Linked DNA regions of Homo sapiens: all the other regions are reported to be linked to region 1. The links are microRNA targets in miRTarBase. Many come from high-throughput screens and were not tested one by one. Region 1 holds a microRNA gene; each other region holds the end of a gene's coding sequence.

The links. The annotated mature microRNA hsa-miR-519e-3p reads AAGUGCCUCCUUUUAGAGUGUU and lies in region 1 at 3,499-3,520, opposite strand. An mRNA with a match to its seed (bases 2 to 7 or 8) in the 3' UTR can be bound and repressed. Matches are read on the target gene's strand: a 7mer-m8 pairs with bases 2 to 8, a 7mer-A1 pairs with bases 2 to 7 and ends in A, and an 8mer does both.
Region 2: the mRNA of APLN is a reported target of hsa-miR-519e-3p. Seed matches in the 3' UTR shown: 7mer-m8 at 3,590-3,596.
Region 3: miRTarBase lists LMBRD2 as a target of hsa-miR-519e-3p. Seed matches in the 3' UTR shown: 7mer-m8 at 4,958-4,964.

What each region holds. Positions count from the first base shown.
Region 1 is chr19:53,676,076-53,683,510 of GRCh38, reverse strand. MIR519E (microRNA 519e) reads right to left here and starts at 3,571; the gene lies at 3,488-3,571. It overlaps MIR515-1 (microRNA 515-1), which reads right to left and starts at 4,508; the gene lies at 4,426-4,508. It overlaps MIR520F (microRNA 520f), which reads right to left and starts at 1,352; the gene lies at 1,266-1,352. All of the region lies in intron 2 of LOC107985342 (a long non-coding RNA gene), which reads right to left. RefSeq lists an enhancer at 5,316-5,816.
Region 2 is chrX:129,643,105-129,650,539 of GRCh38, forward strand. APLN (apelin) reads right to left here. Exons shown (of 3, transcript NM_017413.5): 2 at 5,517-5,688; 3 at 2,155-4,813. The coding sequence ends at 5,522. Among named protein-coding and RNA genes, the nearest start is that of APLN, 8.1 kb to the right of the region's middle. RefSeq lists enhancers at 6,348-6,849, 6,850-7,349.
Region 3 is chr5:36,098,963-36,106,397 of GRCh38, forward strand. LMBRD2 (LMBR1 domain containing 2) reads right to left here. Exons shown (of 18, transcript NM_001007527.2): 17 at 6,106-6,235; 18 at 1-5,144. The coding sequence ends at 5,084. Among named protein-coding and RNA genes, the nearest start is that of UGT3A2, 36 kb to the left of the region's middle.

The DNA.
Region 1 (7,435 bases):
GGTAAGGAACATGGAGATGTCAGCCAAGGGAAGTGACTCTCAGGGATTTCTATGGATTATGCAGACGCCCAGCCAGATCCCAAACTTCCCCAAAAGATCCCAAGTCCAGGCAGGAAGGACCACTGGGCTCCAGAAACCAAATGAAGTGGCCCTGGGCAGGAGTCTCTGTTGTCAGATTCCATGACTAAGACAGCCAGGGAGCAGAGTGAAAATCCCAGGGGCTCTCTCTCCCAGAAGACACCTGCTCCATCCAGATCAAACCCAAAATGTCCCCAGAGAATGATGCCTGCTTCTCCTTTCCCCTCGGCTCATCCTGCCTGCATCGGTGCAGTGCCCTGACGTTCCCAGCCCAGAGGCCTTCACTCCTTCCAGTGCCCCAGGAGGGTCACCTTGCAGTTCTCAGGGAGGAAGATGGGGTCTTCCACCCTTGTGAGCTTCCCAGACATCAGGGTCTGCCCGCCCCACTCCATTCCCAAAGGATGTTCCGCCCAGTTCTCCCAGCCTCCTGCTTCCCTCCAGGGACCACCCTTCAGTGGTAAGATTCACATTGCAGACAACCAGGACCAACCCATTATCCTCAACTGGACACCCATACAAGATTGGTCTACGTGACCGGCCTACAAGAGGCAGATCCAGAGCTAGAGAGATGGGGAGTCGTTGCCACGGTCTGGGTGGAAGAGGTGGGTGGGTACTGACTGCAAATGAGTATAAGCCTCTTCGGGGTGATGAAAATCTTCCAAAACTAGAGTGGTGGTGGCTGCAAACAAGCTAAAATCCACATCTCAGAGTTCATCTCAAAAGATTAGTTTCTCGGCCGGGCGCGGTGGCTCACGCCTATAATCCCAGCACTTTGGGAGGCCGAGGCGGGCGGATCACGAGGTTAGAAGATCGAGACCATCCTGGCTAACACGGTGAAACCCCGTCTCTACTGAAAATGCAAAAAATACAAAAATTAGATGGGCGTGGTTGCACGCACCTGTGATCCCAGCTACTCAGGAGGCTGAGGTTTCAGTGAGCCAAGATAGTGCCACTGCATTGCTGAGACACACAGTGAGACTCCCTGTCAAACAAACAAACAAACAAACAAAAACGACCGGAGCCCAAGAAATGTAGGTTGAAGTGTCACCGCACTCCAGCCTGGGCAACAGGGACCTTGTCTTGGAATACAACAAAACAAAAGCAAAACCCCACCATCATCCAAGTCTGATGATAAGCACGCTCTGCAAATATTTTACCAAGATCAGCATCAACTTCAACATTGCTTTTCCCAAACGGTAACCCTCTAAAAGGAAGCACTTGCTTTTCTTTCTGACCACAGAAAGCGCTTCCCTTTAGAGGGTCACAGCCTGAGATCCTCTTGCTCCAGCACCGTGGATTTTTTGTGGGAATCTTCCTTGACCAGGTTTAAATGGACACAAAAATAAAGATGCATTTATTGGGGCCGGGCGCAGTGGCTCATGCCTGTAATCCCAGCACTTTGGGAGGCCGAGGCGGGCAGATCACGAGGTCAGGAGATCAAGACCATCCTGGCTAACAGGGTGAAACCCCGCCTCTACTAAAAATACAAAAAATTAGCCTAGCGTGGTGGTGGGCACCTGTAGCCCCAGCTACTTGGAAAGCTGAGGCAGGAGAATGGCGTGAACCCAGGAGGCTGAGCTTGCAGTGAGCCAAGATTGTGCCACTGCACTCCAGCCTGGGTGACAGAACGAGACTCCATCTCAAAAACAAAACAAAACAAAACAAAAAGATGCATTTATTGGCCCTGTTTGCATGTTTTCTGGAATCCAGAACATAAACCCCTAAAAGGACCATCTCCAGTCCTTTGCTTCAAAGAATCAGCAGGTTAGCCTTGTTCATCAAGGGGCAATCCTCCTGAGTTCTGTCCCCAAAGAGAAAAAGCAATGCCTACCACATATACCTTATATTTAACCATGAGAATTGAGCTGGATTTCTAGAGAACAGCAATGGATTTTGAGCCAAGTGTTCACTCGAGTTCCAGCACAGGGACACACAGTCCCGATGGGAGCATCCAAAATGGAATCTACTATGTTCAAGAATATACACTGTCTCACACACAAACATCCTGCAGGATAGACCACAGGGTATGCTGTATAAGCTCCTCAATAAATACAGAAATACACAAGTATGGGTGGGGCGTGGTGGCTCACACCAATAAACCCAGCACTTAAAGAGGGCAAGGCAGGAGGATCACTTGAGCTCAGGAGTTCGAGCTCAACCAGCATGGGTAATATGGTGAAACCTTATGCACAAAAAATAGAAAAGTTAGCTGGGTGTGGTGGTGCGCACCTGTAGACAAGTACTCAGGAGGCTGAGGTGGCAGGTGGAGGTTGCAGTAAGTCGACATGGCACCACTGCACTCCAGCCTGGGTGATAAAGCTAGACCTTGTCTCAAAACAAAACAAACAAACAAACAAGAAAAACACAGAAAGAAACAAGTAAATAAATACCCAAAGTGATACAAGAGTATTCTCCGTGTGTAGAACAGGGTTTGGTGTACATATGACTACATTATATACATGATAAGACTATATGATTAAATATACATCATATATTGTTGAGACCCTGTCTATGAAAAAAAAAAAAAAGAATATACTGTTTGCTCACATTAAAAATAACTCCTCACCGGGTGCGGTGGCTCATGCCTGTAATCCCAGCAGTTTGGGAGGCCGAGGCAGGTGGATTAGTTGAGGTCAGGAGTTTGAGACCAGCCGGACCAACATGGCAAAACCCCGATTCTACCAAAAGGACAAAAATTAGCCGGGGTGGCGGCATGCACCTGAAATCCCAGCTACTCAGGAGGCTGAGGCAGGAGAATCGCTTGAACCCGGAAGGCGTAGGTTGCAGTGAGCCGAGATCATGCCACTGCACTCCAGCCTGGGCGACAAGAATGAGACTCCATCTCAAACAAACAAACAAACAAACAAACAAAATTCCTACACACAAGTGCTTGCTTTGGCAGCACAAAAAAATACAAATAATAATTAAAAAAAAAAAAAAAAACACCCTGCAGTCCGAGCAGGGTGGCTCATGCCTGTAATCCCACCACTTTGGAAAGCAGAGGCGGGCAGATCACCTGAGGTCAGGAGTTCAAGACTAACCTGGCCAATGTGGTGAAACTCCATCTCTGCTAAAAATACAAAAATTAGCCAGGCGTGGTGGCACGTGCCTATAATACCAGCTACTTGGGAGGCCGAGGTTGCAGTGAGCAGAGAATGTGTCACTGCCTGCCCGCCTGGCCCACATAGTGAGACTCTGTCTCAAGAACAAAAACAACAAAAAAAGTAGGGGGGACCAACTAGCCTAAGAGGTCTAGGTTGGAAGCGCCACCGCACTCCTGCCCGGGCAACAGAAACCCTGTGTTGCAAAAAAACTAAACAAAAACAGAACCCCAACATCATGCAAGTCTGATGATAAGCACGCTCTGCAAATGCGTTACCAAGATCAGCATCAACTTCAACGTGGTTTTTCTCAAACAGTAACACTCTAAAAGGAGGCACTTTGTTTTCTTTCAAACAGAAAGTGCTCCCTTTTGGAGAATGACTGCATGAGATCTTCTCGCTCCAAAACTCTGGGTTTTTGTTGGAATTTTCCTTACCAGGTTAAAATGGACACAAAAATAAAGATGCATTCATTGTCCCTGTTTGCATGTTTTCTGGAATCCAGAACATAAACCCCTAAAAGGACCATCTCCAGTTCCTTGCTTCAAAGGCTCAGCAGGTTAGCCTTGTTCACGAAGGGGCAACCCTCCTGAGTATTGTCTCCAAAGAGAAAAAGCAAAGCCTACCACACATACCTTATATTTAACCAAGAGAATTGGGCTGGATTTCTAGAGAACAGCAATGGATTTTGAGCCATGTGTTCACTTGAGTTCCAGCACAGGGACACACAGTCCCGATGGGAGCAACCAAAATGGAATCTAAGATGATATTTAAGAATATACGTTGTGGGCCAGGCACAGTGGCTCATGCCTGTAATCCCAGCACTTTGCGAGGCCGAGGCAGGTGGATCACCTAAGGTCAGGAGTTCAAGACTAATCTGGCCATCATGATGAAACTCCGTCTCTGCTAAAAATACAAAAATTAGCCAGGCGTGGTGGCATGTGCCTGTAATACCAGCTACTCGGGAGGCAGAGGTTGCAGTGAGCAGAGAACATACCACTGCACTCCAGCCTGGGCCACAGAGAGAGACTGTCTCAAGAGAAAAAAAAGGGGGAGGGGGTGGGGGCAGGGACCAACTGAGCCCAAGAGGTCTAGGTTGGAAGTGTCACCGCACTCCAGCCTGGGCAAGAGACCCTGTGTTGCAAAAAAACTAAACAAAAACAGAACCCCAACATCATGCAAGTCTGATGATAAGCACGCTCTGCAAATGTGTTACCAAGATCAGCATCAACTTCAACGTGGTTTTTCTCAAACAGTAACGCTCCAAAAGAAGGCACTCTGCTTTCAGACAACAGAAAGTGCTTTCTTTTGGAGAATGACTGCATGAGATCTTCTCACTCCAAAACTCTGGGTTTTTTGTTGGAATTTACCTTACCAGATTAAAATGAACACAAAAATAAAGATGCATTCATTGGCCAGGCGCGGTGGCTCACGCCTGGAATCCCAACACTTTGGGAGGCTGGTCAAGAGACCACGACCATCCTGGCCAACATGGTGAAACTCCGTCTCTACTAAAAATACAACCATTTGCCGCCTGTGGTGGCATGTACCTGTAGTCCCAGCTACTCGGGAGGCTGAGGCAGGGGAATTACTTGAACCAGGAGGCAGAAGTTGCAGTGAGCCGAGATCGTGCCACTGCACTCCAGACTGGCAAGAGTAAGACTCCATCTCAAAAAAAAATAAAAATAAAAATAAAAAAGGTGCATTCATTGCCCCTGTTTGCATGTTTTATGGAATCCAGAACATAAACCCCTGAAAGGACCATCTCCAGTTCCTTGCTTCAAAGGCTTAGCAGGTTAGCCTTGTTCATCAAGGGGCAATCCTCCTGAGTTTTGTCCCCAAAGAGAAAAAGCAATGCCTACCACACATACCTTATCTTTAACCAAGAGAATTGGGCTGGATTTCTAAGGATGTTGAGCCAGTGTTCACTTGAGTTCCAGCACAGAAACACACAGTCCTGATGGGAACATCCAAAATGGAATCTAAGATAATGTTTAAGAATATACATTGTTGTACACACAAATACCCTCCAGGACAGACCACAGGCTAGGCCGTAAAAGCTCCTCAGTAAGATTTGACAGAGCTGGGGGGAAAAAAAGAATGTACATTGTCACACACACGAACATTCTTCAGGATAGACCACAGGCTAGGCTGTAAAACCTCAATAATTTTTTTTCTTGGAGACTAAGTTAGGAAAAACAAATGCCCACACCTAAACAACCAATCATTTCTAGTTCAAGTACATCTCAAGTATACTGTTGACCTGAAATAGAAAGTTAACCGGGTTTCCCTGCTCTGGGAAGCCCCCTTTGGTAATTCAGTTAAGGGTCTCCTTTGGAAGGTAATGGGTAGGAACATGGAGATGTCAGCCAAGGGAAGTGACTCTCAGGGATTTCTATGGATTATGCAGATGCCCTGCCAGATCCCAAACTTCCCCAAAAGATCCTAAGTCCAGGCAGGAAGGACCACTGGGGTCCAGAAACCAAATGAAGTGGCCCTGGGCAGGAGTCTCTGTTGTCAGATTCCATGACTAAGACAGCCAGGGAGCAGAGTGAAAATCCCAGGGGCTCTCTCTCCAGGAGACACCTGCTCCATCCAGATCAAACCCAAAATGTCCCCAGCCAGTGATGCCTGGCTCTCCTTTCCCCTCGGCTCATCCTGCCTGCATCGGTGCAGTGCCCTGACGTTCCCAGTCCAGAGGGTGGAGGTTGCAGTGAGGGGAGATCACAGACTGTCAGAGCCTTCCTCTCTCCTTGCCTATGCATGGGTTAATATTCACCTGAAGTCCCAGCTACTAGGGTACGCATAGGAGCACAGCCCAGTTTAGTCTGGGTGACACAGTGAGACCCCCATCTCTAAAATTTAAAAATTAAATCAAATGTGCAATTTTTTGACCTGTTCATGCACACTACATTTCGGCTGCATTTACCCAATAAAAACTCAGAGCCCATGCACTCCACCTCCGTGCGCTTGCTAAGCAGTGCACATCCCATCAGCAAGGGACACTGAGGTCCCCTCCAACTCTACCTCAACCCAAGAGGTGTTCTATAAAGCAGTGCAGGCAGAACTTCCATGGAGTAAGAGGTGTTAAGGGCTGGACGAACAGGCATCGCTCACTGTGGCAACAACAAGAGCTGCTGAACATCCCACCTGTTACTAGAGAGACCCTTCTAGGGTTCTAAAGGACCCTATTTTTGCGAAAATATCTGTGGTTTTGTCTCATGTGACATTTGTCACTGTGATTGAGATGGATTTTCTTTACAATAGTTTATATTAGGCACAGCAAACATTTTAGATCTTGCCAAGCAACCTGTATTCAGAGGCGAGGTTTTGCCTGTTGGAATGGTACATTGGAACCGCTACCCACAGGAAACAGGATAAATGGTCCAGCTGTAGTCAAAAGAACTCACTAGGGTTGTTGGCATTAGTGGTTGAGGGTTGAATCAACTATAAGCTTCTCACAGAGGAAGCAGGTCTATTCTGAGAAATGATGGTAAGCTGTTAGGAAGGAAAAATTTTCAGTGTCAGGGACAAGTAGATTAAAATAAAAAGACAAATGAACAGGAAAAAAAAAATCCCCATTGGGGACTGCAGAACAAGACTGGACAGGCCGGGCGTGGTGGCTCTCGTCTGTAATCCCGGCACTTTGGGAGGCTGAGGTGGGTGGATCACGGAGGTCAGGAGTTCGAGACCAGCCTGACCGACATGGTGAAACCCCATCTCTAGTAAAAACACAAAAATTAGCTGGTCATGGTGGCAGGCGCCTGTCATTCTAGCTACTTGGGAGGCTGAGGTGAGAGAACTCCTTGAACTCAGGAGGCAGAGGTTGCAGTGAGCTGAGATTGCACCATTGCACTCTAGCCTGAGTGACAAGAGCCAAGCTCTGTCTCAAAAAGACTGGATAGACTTGGAGGCTTATTTACTCTCTTAATGAAGGAAACATGGTTTGGATTCATTAAACTAAATTTATAGGAGGCCATTGTTTGACCAACACAAATGGTGTCTCTGGAACCAGGTGCCATGTAATGTATTTTTTTTTAAGAGATGGGATCTTGCTATGTTGGCCCAGGCTGGAGTGCAGTGGCTATTCAAAGGTGTCATTAGTGCACGGTATAGCATTGAAATCAAGAGACTCTCCCACCCCAGCCTCTGCAGTAGCTGGGGCTGTGTGTCCCACTATGCTTGATCATGTCAACTATCTTTAAAATGGGCACGGTGGCTCACACCTGTAGGATTGCTTGAGCTCAGGAGTTGAG
Region 2 (7,435 bases), not on the chromosome of region 1:
TCAGGCCAGGCCTCATGGTTCCCTCAATACGGAGGAGCCCAGCCCCTACAGGGGGTACCAAGCCAGCTAGGCCTACAGAAGAGTCTGAAATGTTAGATTTCTAAGCAGTTATGGCTCATTTTACACCACACCTGGGGTCCTGAAAAGCTGTGTGTGGTCTGAGTCTGTTTGCCTCCCTAATCTCTGTCATTTCAGAGGCTGCCTAATTCCGGATGGATTTGAAAGAGTGTTGGTTTTCAGATTCTCTGCCCCCACTCGTCAACCTCTCAGTTCAGGACCTCCGGTCCAGAAACAATCAGTTAAGTGAACTCCTATTTCTTTTCCTAAGCTCTGCATTTTGAAAAGCAATGCCCTACTCTGCTTCTGTTGTATTTATTTGGTCTAGATATCTCCAAAGGGTAGTAGCAACGCATATCATATGTTCAGCCTTCTTTTGGTTTGAGGTCTAATTATCTTTACAGAAGCCACCAACTTTCTTTTCCTTATCCCCTGCCCCAAGGAGGTCACACTTGGATCCACCCAATAGTATCCAGTTGACTACGTAGGTTCCATAGACCCTGGTGGCTGCTCCCCCTTCCTTGTCCCCGCCGTCTCTGCCCATCATCCTTTCACCAACTTAACCAAATGCTATTGTGCCTTCTAGGGCCTGTTTTTATCACTCAGCCTCTATTAGCTTTCCCTGATCCCACCAGTCCACACTGTGCCCTCTTGTACTATGAGTTTGTATTGTACTTACTAAGAATAACAAACATAGCTGGGCATGGTGGCTCATGCTTGTAATCCCAGCACTTTGGGAAGCCAAGGCAGGCGGATTACTTCGGGTCAGGAGCTCAAGACTAGCCTGGCTAACCTGGTGAAACCCTGTCTCTACTAAAAATAATAATAATAATAAAAATAAATAAATAAATAAAAATACAAAAAATTACCCAGGCATGGTGATGGGTGCATGTAATCCCAGCTTCTTGGGAGGGTGAGGCAGGAGAAACATTTGAACCCAGGAGGTGGAGGTTGCAGTGAGCCGAGATTGCGCCACTACCTTCCCTCCAGCCTGGGAGACAGAGCAAGACTGTGTCTCGGAAAAAAAAAAAAAAAAAGAATATCAAATTGTACCTAATTCTTCTTTCTAGTTAGGGGACCTTCTGTAGTACTGTAGAAAGAGTTTGCATTCTGGAATTTGAAGACCAGATTCTAGATTCACTTATCTAATTCACTGTACCCTTATGGGTCAGTATTAAGTTGTCCTGCCCCATGCCCCACTCCCTTCTCCTTGCTTTCACGTGAATTTAGAACTTTGGGGATGATTAGGCAGGTAACAGACTAATCAGCATAAAGCCAGTCCACCTGAAACCTCTGCTTAAAACCAGTTCCACCTGTTTGCCTAAAAGTCAAACTAGTAATTTTAAAATAAGGCATTTTGCACCAGTTTTCCTAAGAGGCACTTCCAATGTAACATCACTTTTTTTTTTTTTTTTTTTGAGATGGAGTCTGGCTCTGTCACCCAGGCTGGAGTACAGTGGTGTGATCTCGGCTCACTGCAACCTTCACATCCTGTGTTCAAGCAATTCTCCTGCCTCAACCTCCCGAGTAGCTGGGATTACAGGCACCTGCCACCATACCCAGCTAATTTTTGTATTTTCAGTAGAGACGGAGTTTCACCATGTTGGCCATGCTGGTCTCAAACTCCTGACCTCAAGTGATCTGCCTGCCTCGGCCTCCCAAAGTGCTGGGATTACAGGTGTGAGCCACCGCTCCCAGCCGTAACATTGCATTTTTAAATCACTATCACAACTTGCAGCATTTTGTCAATAATGAGATTGTTTTGTATGCTTGTGGGTGACTTTTTCTATTTTTCTCTCCTATTGATCATTTTTATGACTTTTTAGGGAGTTTGTTTGAAGACCCTTTCTTTAAAATTGTATATTTCTAGCACTAAATACTTGTCAAATCTATAGGATTTCCCACGAGATTTATCAAATGAACCCATTTTGATCCCTCCTCTCTGCTTCTCACTGAGTTTTGCTCTGTACTGTGTATTCCTGTGTGCACCTAATGGGTTTATTAACCAAATTAGCATGTACCCAATGTTCCCTTCTGTTCTGCAAGATATTGGCATTTTGACAACAAACGTGAAGTGATGAGACAGATGGGGCAGAATTATATTGAACTCTTTGCATTTTATTTTTCAGGCTATCTCATTCATCAAGCAACTCTACTTTGTGAAACATAAAATGATACAAACAAAGTCATTATCAAATGTATTTATTGCTGAAAACATAACATTTTTCAAGAAAGGCAAACTGGCTAAAAAGTCCTGAAAGTGTTCAAAAGTAGATAAAATAGCAGAAGACACCCACCAAGGATACAAAACAATTTTTAGTAGCGATCCTGCATTTAATCAGTATGTTCTTAAATAAACTGCTTTAAAAAAATTCTTCAAATGACACTGCCAAAAAAATTAGGACACCCAAACAGATGCCAGAAAACCTGTAAGTGGGCTGGATTTTATGTGACCTGGTCATTAAGCATAGGGATTCATTTTGTGAGCTCATGGCAAATCAGTTTGAGGCCAGTTGACCTAGAACCGATTTGGGATGCAGGCACTTACCTCCCTGCACGTGCAATATGTGGGCATGGGGACACCCATGACCCCCAGGGGAAAGGAATGCCCCTCCTGAACATGACCTCCAAGAGTAAGGGCGAACTGTCAGCTTTTAACTGTTTATTATAAAGACATATTTACACAGAACAATCTTTACAAACATTGAACACAGGGGAAGGGAACAATTTCTTAATGAACAGGGCCTTAATATCTTTGTATAAATTAGTATAAGAATCATAAACAACCACTTTAAATAAGGCAGCCCCCCTAGCCCACCCACTACCCTCTTCTGTTCCCTATCTCCCAGCTTTCTTAGCCATCCCCCACTTTCTCCCCTTCCCCACGGGGCTGGGCTTGGCTGCAGGTCATGGCAGGCCGATGAGGCAGGAGACACAGAAAGGAAGGGGGAAAGAAGGCCCAATCCCTGATGGGGGCGTCAGTGGCAGAAGAGACTTTCTGGGCACCGACCAGTCCCCACTCCAAGCATGAGCCTTTAAGCAGCAGCAGCAGCAGCAGCAGCGTTAGCAGCAGCATAGGTAAAGGGGCTTGGGGGAGGTGGATAGGCAAACATTGGGGCTATTGTGGGACTTGGGGGGCCCTGACTCCCCCGTCCCCACACACACAAAGTTGGGCATCAGGCTCTTGTCTTCTCTTTCTCCCTCCTGGGAACCCTGCTCAAGCAAAAGGGGAGAAAGCCCCCTCCAAGGAATGGCTGGTGATGGCCCCTCACGGAAGCTAGGGCCTCCCGGGGAGAGGGTGCTATTCCTGCTGCACTTCCTCCCATCTTTCTTTCCTTCCTTCTGTTCCTTTGCTTTCTTTTCTTCCCTCCTTCCTTCTGCCCTTCCCTTCCTTCTTCTCCCCTCTCCGCCTCCCCCAAAGGAAAAGCCCTGGAAGGAAGGTCCGGTCAACACGAAGGGAAGGCCATGGAGTCCAGTGATTGAAGGCTACCTCGGACTCCTGAAAACCACCCTGGGGTTGAGCGGTAGTCTCAGTGCCTGAGCCGCCCCTATTAGAGTACCCTGGGTCTGGGAATGCTGCCAGTTATGGGGGCAGCTGGCCAGTTATGGAACCTTCCAGCCCAGCTGGGGGAATGGTGCAGCAGGGGTAGGTCAGGGAGGTGGGAGCAGCTCCAGCCCCACAACAGGACAGTTCACAGCCAGCTTGCCTCTCCCTTCCCTTCCCCTCCCAGCCACCCCCAGCCCCAGCCTCGGGAAAAGGCACTTCATTTGCTTTGAAAAGACATCATCAAGAGGGAAGAGGGCGTCATAAAGTAGGAGATGGGAGACCTGGTCCCCATCCCGGCTCTGCAATGACTCTGAGCAGGTCACTCCCCTCTCCAGGCTTCTGTTTTGCAGGCGTTTGCCTAAGAAGGCTAAGTGACCTTCAAGGGTCCTGTCAGCTCTAACATTCTGTGATTCTTGGCAAAAACAACCTCTTGCTTGGCTTTTACTCCTGGGAGGGTATATAGCCATGTCAGGCCCAGCACCCTCCCCTCCTGACCTGGAGCTTGGGCTAGCTGGGGATGGGGTGTGGGGGCAGGAAGAAGGGAGTATTGGGAGGCACACTAAGGCAAGAGAAGTGACAAAGGACTTCACGGGCCCCTCTCTACCTCTCCCTTAACTGAGCAAACGCTGATGCTCCACCCACTTCACCAGAGCTCCTGAAAACCACCCTGGCACTTCCATGCCCCCAATGTGCCCTGTCTGGATCCCCGCAGCCAGCACCTCTTAACTAGAGTCTCTCCTTGCTTTTCTCTGCATTCTTCCCTGGAGGCCAGGTGAGGGGTCCAACTGACAGGAAAACAAGGGATCTGCTGGAGCCCACAGAAGGGAGCACTTCCACCCCGCGCTCAGGGCAGACATGAGGAAGGAAGGCCCAAATGAAGGTTTGGGGCGTTAGATGAGACAGGCAGGGACTAGGGCGGAGGGGACCTGGAGAAGAAGGGAGGCTTTCTGGGGCTAGGTCTCCAAAGTCAGTCCAGGGAGGGGCCAGGAAGATGGACTGGACGGATTCTTGTGAGAGAACGGGAATCATCCAAACTACAGCCAGGAGCACGCCACTGGGGGAAGCAGGCAGGTGAGAAGAGCTGGGCCCACTGGTGGCTACAGCAGGTGCGAGGTGAGAGCTGAATGGACGTGAGGCCTCCAGAGAAGCAGACCAATCTATGGAGGAGACATAACCGCCGGGGGTGGGCACTTGGGGGCCCCTTCAGTCCTAAGGAGACAAAAATGACAAGAGAGAAGTCATGGACATATCCTAGGCCAAAGGAACTCCCCAGGAAAGGAGAGGAGAGAGGAGACCGCCTTCTCTTTCCCCCAAACTCCACTCAGCCCAAACCTCAATCCCAAGGCCCCTGAGTTGGTGCCTGCCTGTCCCCACTGCAGTGGGACAGCCAGCAGACCAGGGAAGGGGCAGGCTTCAGCTCTCCTCTCTCTGCTGCCACCTTGGTTCTTCCCTCCTTCTCACAGCTCCGGGCAACCACAGCCACAACTGTCCTCTTGTTCTCTGCCTGAGAGCCCCTAGAGCTCTCTGCCTCCTTCCCCAACTCTGGCGACAATCTACACTGGACATCTGTAGGTTTGCCCTGGGCACCCCTCCCCAGCCATTAAGGTCCACCAGGATGTCTAGAAATCTCTAAGCAGGCCAGCCTCCCCAACCCCAGGCAGCAGGGTGGAAGGGAGACTGGCCCCAAGTATCAAGCCCCTCTCTAGGCCTCAGACGAGGAGATCGTCTGTAAAATAAAGGGGCTAGACAGCTGCCCCATAAGCTCTCTTGCCAGCTCTAAGCCTCTGTGAGTGTGGCGCCAGGACTGTTTGATGGATGTGTCTGGCCAGTGATGAGCGGCAGGATCACCCGGCTTCTAGGCTGTCCTTCTCCCTCCGCTTTAGCACTGTCCACTGAACAGAGGCTCAAGTACCTGCTTCAGAAAGGCATGGGTCCCTTATGGGAGAGGCGGGGCCGCTGGCGGCGGAATTTCCTCCGACCTCCCTGCCAGGGCCCTGGCCCATTCCTTGACCCTCTGGGCTGCACCAGGTGGCGGACATTGCCGTCTTCCAGCCCATTCCCATCGGGAAGCGGCATCAGGGACCCTGCAGGAAGGAGAAAGCCTGTTAGTGAGGAAGGTTGTTGGAAACGGGCAGGGGCTGCAGACCACAGGCCCGCGGGAGGGGTGGTCTGTCCATGTGGTGGCACTTCTCATAGATTTTCTTTGTTTCTTTTTTTCATATTGAGGGAAAATTTGCCATTTCTGCACTGTCCTGGGACAAACGGAACCTACTACTCACATCTTGCCATTGATGTAGCTGACTTTCTGTCCTTTTGACAGTTATATCATGTTTCTGACAGGCACAAGTGGGTTCTTTCTTTGGAACGTCATTGGGGGGTGTGCACTTTGGGTTGTCACGCCTGTACTTGGCTGGGGGGCAGGAGGCAGTAATCACCACGGCACCCCTGCAACTGGTACACTTCAAACATTTCAGACATATGACATTACAATGACCCTCCCACCGCCATGGACCCATCACCCAGATTCAACAGTTATCCAGATGGAGTCACATATGCTTTAGTTATCCCTTTTCTATTTTCCTTGACTGCAGTATTTTAAAGCAAATCCCGAACATCACGTCATTGTACTCCTACATCCTTTGATATGCAGGATGACCCACTTGTGAGTACTAGGGAGCTCATATCTCGCCCCTGGGTGTCTCATCGGTGGTTAGGCATCTCTAGGGCGCCAAGTCCTCCCAGTGGATGGGGCTGGGCCAGGCGGGTTAAGGGGGAGAGGTCTCTGACTCAGCCTGCCTCATGCTGTGACCAGATTTAGAGACCTGAGACCAGATTTAGAGACCAATAAATATTGCATGAATATTTGAGAATGAATAAATGAAACAATGGTCACCTTCAGCAGCATGTCTGTGCACCAGGAGGGGGGTGGGCTGTTGCAGTTGGTACCTCCCCACCAATGCCCTACCTCCTGAAATTCCCAGATCACACCCTGCATCCTGTGTCTCATGTAAATTCCTTCCATTTCAATCCCAGCTGGCTTCTATTCTGCACTCTGGGGCTCCTCTTTACATCTGTCCACATCTGTCAGGAGGCTTAGAGTAGAGGCCTCCTGACACCAGACTGAGCCCTGACAATGGAATCCAAGTGGTGCAGGGTATCCTTGGGTGCAGTGAGGGAAAAGGCATGCAGGCCGACTCTCGTGAAGCCTGCAGTCCATGCAGGGAAGCTGAGCTGCCACCCCCAAGACAAGCCTGGCTGGTGGTGGCAGGCAGTGTGTGGAGATGAGATGGTGCTGGGGAAGAGGCAGCCAGGCAGGGTACTTGTGCAATGTCCAGTACAGGCCTGTGCAGATACAGCATCTGAGGCCAGAGATAATGAATAACAGTCTCTCTCCCCCTGCACACCATCTGATTTGCCTGCATCTAGATCCCTGTCCCTCGAGCCCCATTGCCATCTACCCAGGAATTCCCACCACTTGCTCACAGTTTCCATAGAGCCTCCCATTGGCTGCTCACACCCCAATCATACCCCTGGCAGCTCCCCCTTCCCCTCTGCCTCTGCCTCCAACATCCCCACGCTCTGTTCCTTCCTTGGCTCCTTGGTTTTTGTGAGTCCTCCTCTGCTTGCACACAATTTCCAAGTGTTCAGCCTCCTCTTGGGCCAAAAGTGGGTGGGTTTGGCCTTAGGGCCCTCTTCCCCCAGGCTTCTGAGCCTGCAGTTCTCCCCACTCACACCCAGACATACCCACCCCCTCCACACACACACACATAAACACATATTCTCCAAGCCTGCACCCTCCTTCCCTCTTTCCCCAAGAAAAATTGCCAGGCC
Region 3 (7,435 bases), not on the chromosome of region 1:
TATGCACATTTGAAAAGATTAATTTTCTATTTCACCTAATCAACTGAATTGGATAAAGGCAAAATAACAAGTATTTTATTAATGCAATGCAGAAATTAGGTTTTTGGTATATTAATAATTTGCTTGTGTATTGGTATATATAAAAATCACTGACGGGATCTAGGAGTATTTCAAGCTCACACTGGACTACTGAACTTTAGAATACTGTCCTAAGGAAATAGGTCTGGGCAGAACTTATTTGAGATAGATTTTAAAACTATTTAAAAGCAATACTACAATTAGTTACTTACAAAAACATTTATAAAAATTAAATATCAGAAAGTGAGAACATCAATATTAGAGCTCTGTTGTATCATTCAATGTTATAATTTATAAATACATATTAATTTAAAACACAGGTCCACATATTTTCTACCTTCTAAAATAAGAAAAATCCTTCGAGTTGTTTTCAAAATATGAACAAAAACAAATCCATTGGATTGCTTTTAAAAAATATATACACAGTCTCTCCCCTACAACTTGGTATGCTAAGTACGGAAGATGCTTGCCAGCATTGTTGAGAAATGCAGTTCCAAATTAGTAGGCTAATAACATTTATGTCAATATCAACTCTAAATGGTGTTGTACAGTCAGTTTAAATAAATTATGATTTTACCCTACATATGTCTGCAATAGTAAATCATTCTTTCTACTCTTTTGAACTAAGTACAGTAAAATTCTTTCACAAAATAATCTGAGATCAAGATAACCAAAAAAGGAAATATTTTCAGTGAAAAAAAGTTAATTTTTCCCAAGGAGTGTGTAAAAAATAAATGTCTTTTAGGATATTGATGAGAAGAGGAACATGCCAATATCCTTGCTTTATTAACAGATTTAAAATTTACAGTGAGTCCTCAATTGACCTCAATGGACCAATGGCTTGGTACAGAAGGAATCAGAGGCGAGGACATGTTCCTGCTGCAGTGGGAAGTAAGACAGAGCAGGACTACGGCCTGCCCTACTGGAGGAAATTGCTCCTAGGGCCTTGTCTCCAGGAGTTGGGAAAGGGGAAAGAAAACATTGCCCAGTCTTCCAAGTCTCTGGGCAAAAAGTCACTGAGTTGGAAAGAAGTACCTCATACAGATGGGAATTCATATTTTAGAAGGCCTTCTGTAACCTTCTTATATTGTTTCAACGCTCCTAAGAAAAGTTTTGATGATGTATGTTATTAATTCCTTTTCATAAAAAGATGTCTCAAGAATCTAAATAAATCTTAAATTTTGGGGGGGAAATCTATTTTTATGTAAAAATATTACACTGAAAACAATTTATTTACTGATGTGTCCTCTTTAGTGACCTAAAAGATACACTGAGCCAGCATACTTTACATTTGTATTCAGATGTTGCTTAGTTGTCTAGCAAAATCTGTTTGACTACTTTAGGTACAATATTGCTATTTCAAGTAGTGGGATTTGTAGTCAGAACTAGTTCCTTCTGAGCGTACCACTCATCAAAAACAACTCTGTACACAAAACAGAAGGAAAATCTTTCAGCACATTAAAAGTCATGCTATAAACATAGGCCTCAGAAAGGAAGAAAGGTATAAAGGAATGAGAGAGGACATAAGAAAAGAAAGACAAAACCCTAAATCCACTTACTTCTTAACATTTAGAATTCAATACAATCCATTACATTTGATGATTCAAGTACGCTAAGATTTTTCAGGGACATATTTTGTCGCTTAGTGCAAATATACTTGTAATTTTTAGGCATAATCCACTCAAATCACAAGTAAGAAACTCACCTTACTAAACAGGTGAATTATAATATGGAGAGTTTATTTTTTCTCTAATATGGTAATCAGCACACCAGCAAGAACATTCCCTAAACCTATTAATAAGAATGAGGTTTGTAACTGAATGTAAATTAAATTGCTCCATTAATATGCTAAAATATACTTTTAAAAAACCACACACATTGACTTTCCTATGCTAATTTAATTTGGGCATACATGCAGCTTAAATTTCAGAACTGATCATCTAATCAAATAGTAGTCCAAAAAAATCAACTGGCAGAATGTTTTTTTGAATGTCTGGATTGTCAAATTTTCTGATCTATTCTTTATAAAGGGAAAACCCTTGAATCTTTTGATTTAGTTCTTACCATTTCTGTGAAATGAGGGCCTCTTATGCAATGAGATTATTCAAAAGCCCTTGTATTCATTTGGTAAGAGAGCAAATTTTAATAATTAAACTTATTCTTTCTTTTGTTTTTTACAAAAATGCTCTATTGATAACAAGTTATTTATGTTGTAAAAGAAGTTAATTAGTAATTTAGAGGTGATTCATTAAATTAATAGATTATTATTATTTTCTACAATAGTTATTCTGAATTACTGGCTTACTGAATATTCTTACCTAACAACTATTTAAAGAATAATTTGGAAAATTTTAAACTAATACTTATTATCAAGTAATAAAGTCATCAAAAATTACCAGAAATAATTCTTTAAGAAATGTACTTTGCATGTAAAGTATATGTATTTAGTAGTCCTATTTTGCAGTAGATGTCATTATATTTCAATAAGCTTCTCAAAAGAGAAAACTTCTACCCATTACAGTTTTTTACACAGGGTGGCTTGACAAATATTAACTTGGTTCCCCAGCAATAAACTGAGTCTTCCAGGGTCAAGTCATTGCCTTCTGAACTCAAATTTATCCAACAAAATAACATTTTTATATGATTGTATATAACATTCTGTAAGACAAATTCTGCTTAAAGTTGAATATTCTGAATCACTGAAACAACCAAATATTTTAAATATAACTTGAAAGTCATAAAGGAATCTATACCGGTTGTGAAGTGTATGCACGTATACACTTCAATTATTATAACCATAAAAAATTTAATACTAAAGGAAAGTGGTAACATTACCTTACACGTTCCTACCAATTTATCTTAGGGCATTATAAAAGTTAGTTATAAAAGTAATTGGCTAATTTCTTTTCCTTTTCTGCTTCTGTTTCAACAACAGCATCTTAATTTCATGACAAAACCTGATGAGAAACATTATACTTAAGAAATTATTCCAAAGTAAACCCAAAGACTAAATAAAACAACACTACTTTCACAGGACTTTTGATGAATTAGTCCAAAAGCGTTTTTGCTTTAAGTACTTGTAAACTTTTCTGTAATAATAAGAAACTGGACCCATTTCTGGGATGATCATTTCCCCATCCAATACCTTCAAGTATCACTAGGAAAAATAGCACAGTTATAAACTCCAGTACATAAACACCAATTCAACTTCCTCACAATGGCTTTGTAAGGTAGATCAGCAGGTAAATAGCAAGTATCATCTTCATTCTGCAAATGAAAGTGCAGAATGAAGCACTTGAGGCACTGAAGAGCTACATGATTTGCCAAAGGTATTCAATTAGTCAATCATTAAATTACAAAGAGGATCAAATTATCTCTGCTCCTGGCTTATTGCTTTCTGGCCACACTTCACATGAAAAGACTGTATGTGTGTGTTCTTAAGTGTAGTCTATATGACCTTCAATTCAGAGTAAGTCTATCCACTGATAATTATTTTAAAAGGGATCTAATTGCAAAGATCATAAAAACTCAAAGATCAAAATTTTCAGATAATGAGGATGATGCTCTATTCCTTTCAATATCTGCATAGAGCTGTGTTTTAAAAAAAAACTTACATGATAATATTTATTAAAAATAAAAATAAAAATTTTAAATTTATGTCTTGGGGAAAGATTAACTTCAAGTTAGGGGAACCATATAATTCATCTTCAAACTGGGTGGGATACTTGAGGGTGAAAGTAATCACTAGTAATAAACAGGATACTAGGTGTTACACTGAGACTGTATTAGGCAAGCTGAAGTATGGTCACCAAATGTAGCATGGATTCAGTAAGAGTTGCAAATATTCTAGGGACATAAGAAAACTCTCTGCAAGCATGCTGCAATCAAACATGTTCACTTTTCAATAAAACACTAGTGCTTTAAAATATAATACATAAATTTATCTTAAACACAAAGGTTAAAAACAGTCTATTTAGTAAGAATGTTTAACCAACAAGTTATTACACATTTCCATTCTAATATAGTTTTGTTTTCTATAAACCACGATTTAAGTATCAGTAATAACAGTAAATGGATTCACTTTTTACCTTTGAATAACCAGTTTTTTTCTCAAAAAGTATAAGCAGGTACCTTTAAATACTGAAGGATTTTGTTGGACTCTTTGACTACTTAAAAAAAAACTATTTTTCATTAATGCCTAGGATTTATCCTTGAATATCATAATCAACATTTAAATCAATATGTTAAATGATAAATGTGAACATAGCTTTCTGAAATGAAAATCTTTTATAAAGCAATACCAGAAGCATAAAAAAATCCAGTTACTACAAAGACTGAAGGAATACTATATCACCTGATTATAGTACACATGCTAAATACACAGACACGCATCACTTGAAGTATAATCTTAATCTTATACATGCAAAAATCCCCCACGAGTTTGCAAACAGATTTGAAAAAGCACTTTTTACATTCAGTTATGTCTAGTAAGTAAGCCTTGTTTTAAGACACGAGTTTTATGAATACAGTTATTATTTGAGGTCTCCATTCACTTACATTTCTTTGGGAAATACAGGTTGAATATACTTTTTAGAAGTAACAAAAATGTAAGTCACAATAACAAAACTGTATATAATATTATTTAGTATGACTTATGGCTTCCTTGAATCTTTAAAATAACTCTCTTGAAAAAAAATTAATCTGAAACAAACTGAACTGCATGTTCTTAACATATGTTGATCTTTCTTAAAGTCCTTCCACTGTAACTGTATTTCTAAGGCAGATGCTTAGGAAATGATATGTAATAAATCTTGTTGAAAAAGGTGATACTCTATTCAATGCACATTAAACTATTATTCCTAAGATATAATTAATTCTCAGTGCCTTTTTTGTTATCTTGACACTTTTCACTGTGTATAGAGGAAATTCTAGGGTACACAGATGTTCATCAAGACTGAACTGATGTGTTGACCTTGGTTAGTGGTCCCACAAACTTTTTCAGACTTTAAACATCATTAAATATGTCACTGCGAGACATCGAGAGATATCGTCCACCAGGCTGATACCTAAAAAGGGAACATAAAGAAATGATCTGAGGCATCAAAAATAATAAAGGAAGAGAGGAAAACAAGAATACATTAAAAGGGAGTGGCCATATAATTTGTAAGTACTGTAAAATCTAGTCAGTAGCTGAAAGCAGAAACTTACCCTCCAAGTATATTATCCAAAAGGACTTAATTATAAATCAACCAGCAACGGTTTTAGACCCTAGAATATATGCATGACAGAGTGAGAGATGTAAAAAGAAGGGGGCAGGGGATGTAAGACACATCTGGGAGATTAATCAATTCAATAACCACTCTCAATTGTTGCAAATAAATATAACCTAGGTTTTTACTGCATATAGGCAATACTATAGTAAACATTTTCGTGCACATGATATTTTGCTTTTATTTAATTATGTGCTTATAGCATAATGGCTAAAAGTACAGACTCTGTAGCCAGAATACTGGACTTTGAATGCCTGACTTGCCATTTACAAGTTGTGTGACTCTGGGCACTTTACTGAGCCTCTCTGGATTTAAATCCAGCTGAATTTGCAACCATACAATTACAATATTTTTGCTAAAGGACTTAGAATAGTGTCTGGCATCTAGACACTGCTATGCAGCAGTTACTAAATATAATAAATTTCACAAATGGGACAATCAGAAATAGGCATATAAATATTGTTGTGATCCTTTGCTATATATTTCAATTATTCTTTCTTATTTATAATACCACTAGTATTGTATGAAGATAACAATTTTAGTTACCATTACTGGATGATATAAAAGCATTAGAAAGTCTAAAAAGGTATCAAAAGTTACTTAATATATTTTTTATTGTTAGTGAAAATGAACATTTTCCTTTACTTATCACTTGTTTACTTTCACCTTTACTTACTTATTTTCAATCTTGTCAAGTCAATGTGTTATTAAAAGTGTAGAGGAATGCTAGAGCTAAAATGTCACAGCCAGAACTTACCTTCCTGATTCAGATTCAAGAGGATCATCAGTGAATGTTTCTGCATTAAAATCCAAAGGTTCTGCATCTTGGAGAAGTTCTATCCGGTCCCTTTCAGTCCTGTTATTAGCCCTGGTATATTTGAATGCAGCTGCAAAGGAAGGGGGAAAAATGTCTACTTCCCTACTGTCTTTTAACTTATGGGTCACAGTCTATGGAGGTACAGAAAGAAAAATCAAAATTCCAAGGAATCTGAAGACAAAGAACATAAGAAAAGATAACTACATGGTTCCTTAAAATCAGATTAAAATTATAAGCAGTATAATAGAATATAGCAAGGAAAAGTTCTCTAGGCTTGTAGTTAGCTAAGAAGCTCTCTAAGCTCAGAAGCAGACACAGTGCAAACATTTCATTAGTGTAACTCAGAATTAACATTTAACTATGGTATCACAATGGTGAAACTGTTTATTAACAAAAGTAGTTTGAGTTGGTTTTACAGTAAACCTCATTTCTTGGCTAGGACTTTAATGTGTAATCAGCTCAAACTCTTAAAAAAAGGTGTGTCTTTTTACCATAAGGCAAGAGTATGGGTAGCACTAGCCAACATCGGCACTAGCCGATATTTAATTAGAAATTTTCTAGTAGCTATATTAAAAAGTAAAAAGAAACAAGTGAAATTAATTTTAATATATTTAAACACAATATATCCAAAATATTACCATTTCAACATGTTGCAAGTGCTCAATAGCCACGTGTGGCTAATGATTATCATACCAGACAGCAGATAAAGAAAACTAACTCTCCCTTCTCTATGTGGATAGGGATTTCTATATAAACAAACCAAATTTTCACAATGTTGTTCAGAGGAGTCCAAGTAGATTTACAACAGCTTTATGCTATAGTTCTTTCTGAAAACTTAATGCAAGCCAATTCTATCATATTTACATTTTTGTAAGCTTGGACTCTGTCCCAAATGCAAATCTCTTCATCTTTTCTCTCACTCATTCAGCAAATCGCAATTGCCCAATACATGCTAGATTCTCTCTAATTCATCATCCTATGACTTTGTGACTCCTCTTCTTTTAAGCACTCTCCCGTCTTGCCAGGTCTTTCTATTCTGTAAACTTCTTCCACTCTATGGTAAGCAAGCATCCAAATCCCTTTACAGAATCCTATTTCCTAGTTTTAACTAAGCCTTTAGCCCTTTCCTATTTATTATACCCTAAAGTCCTTCAAATAAATCCTTTTCTCTTCATCTCCAGGACAACTGCCTTATTTTAGACCATAATCATTTCTTGACTGTATTACCAAACAGTCTCTGAAATGGTTTCTAGTCTCACTTCCCCAAGAA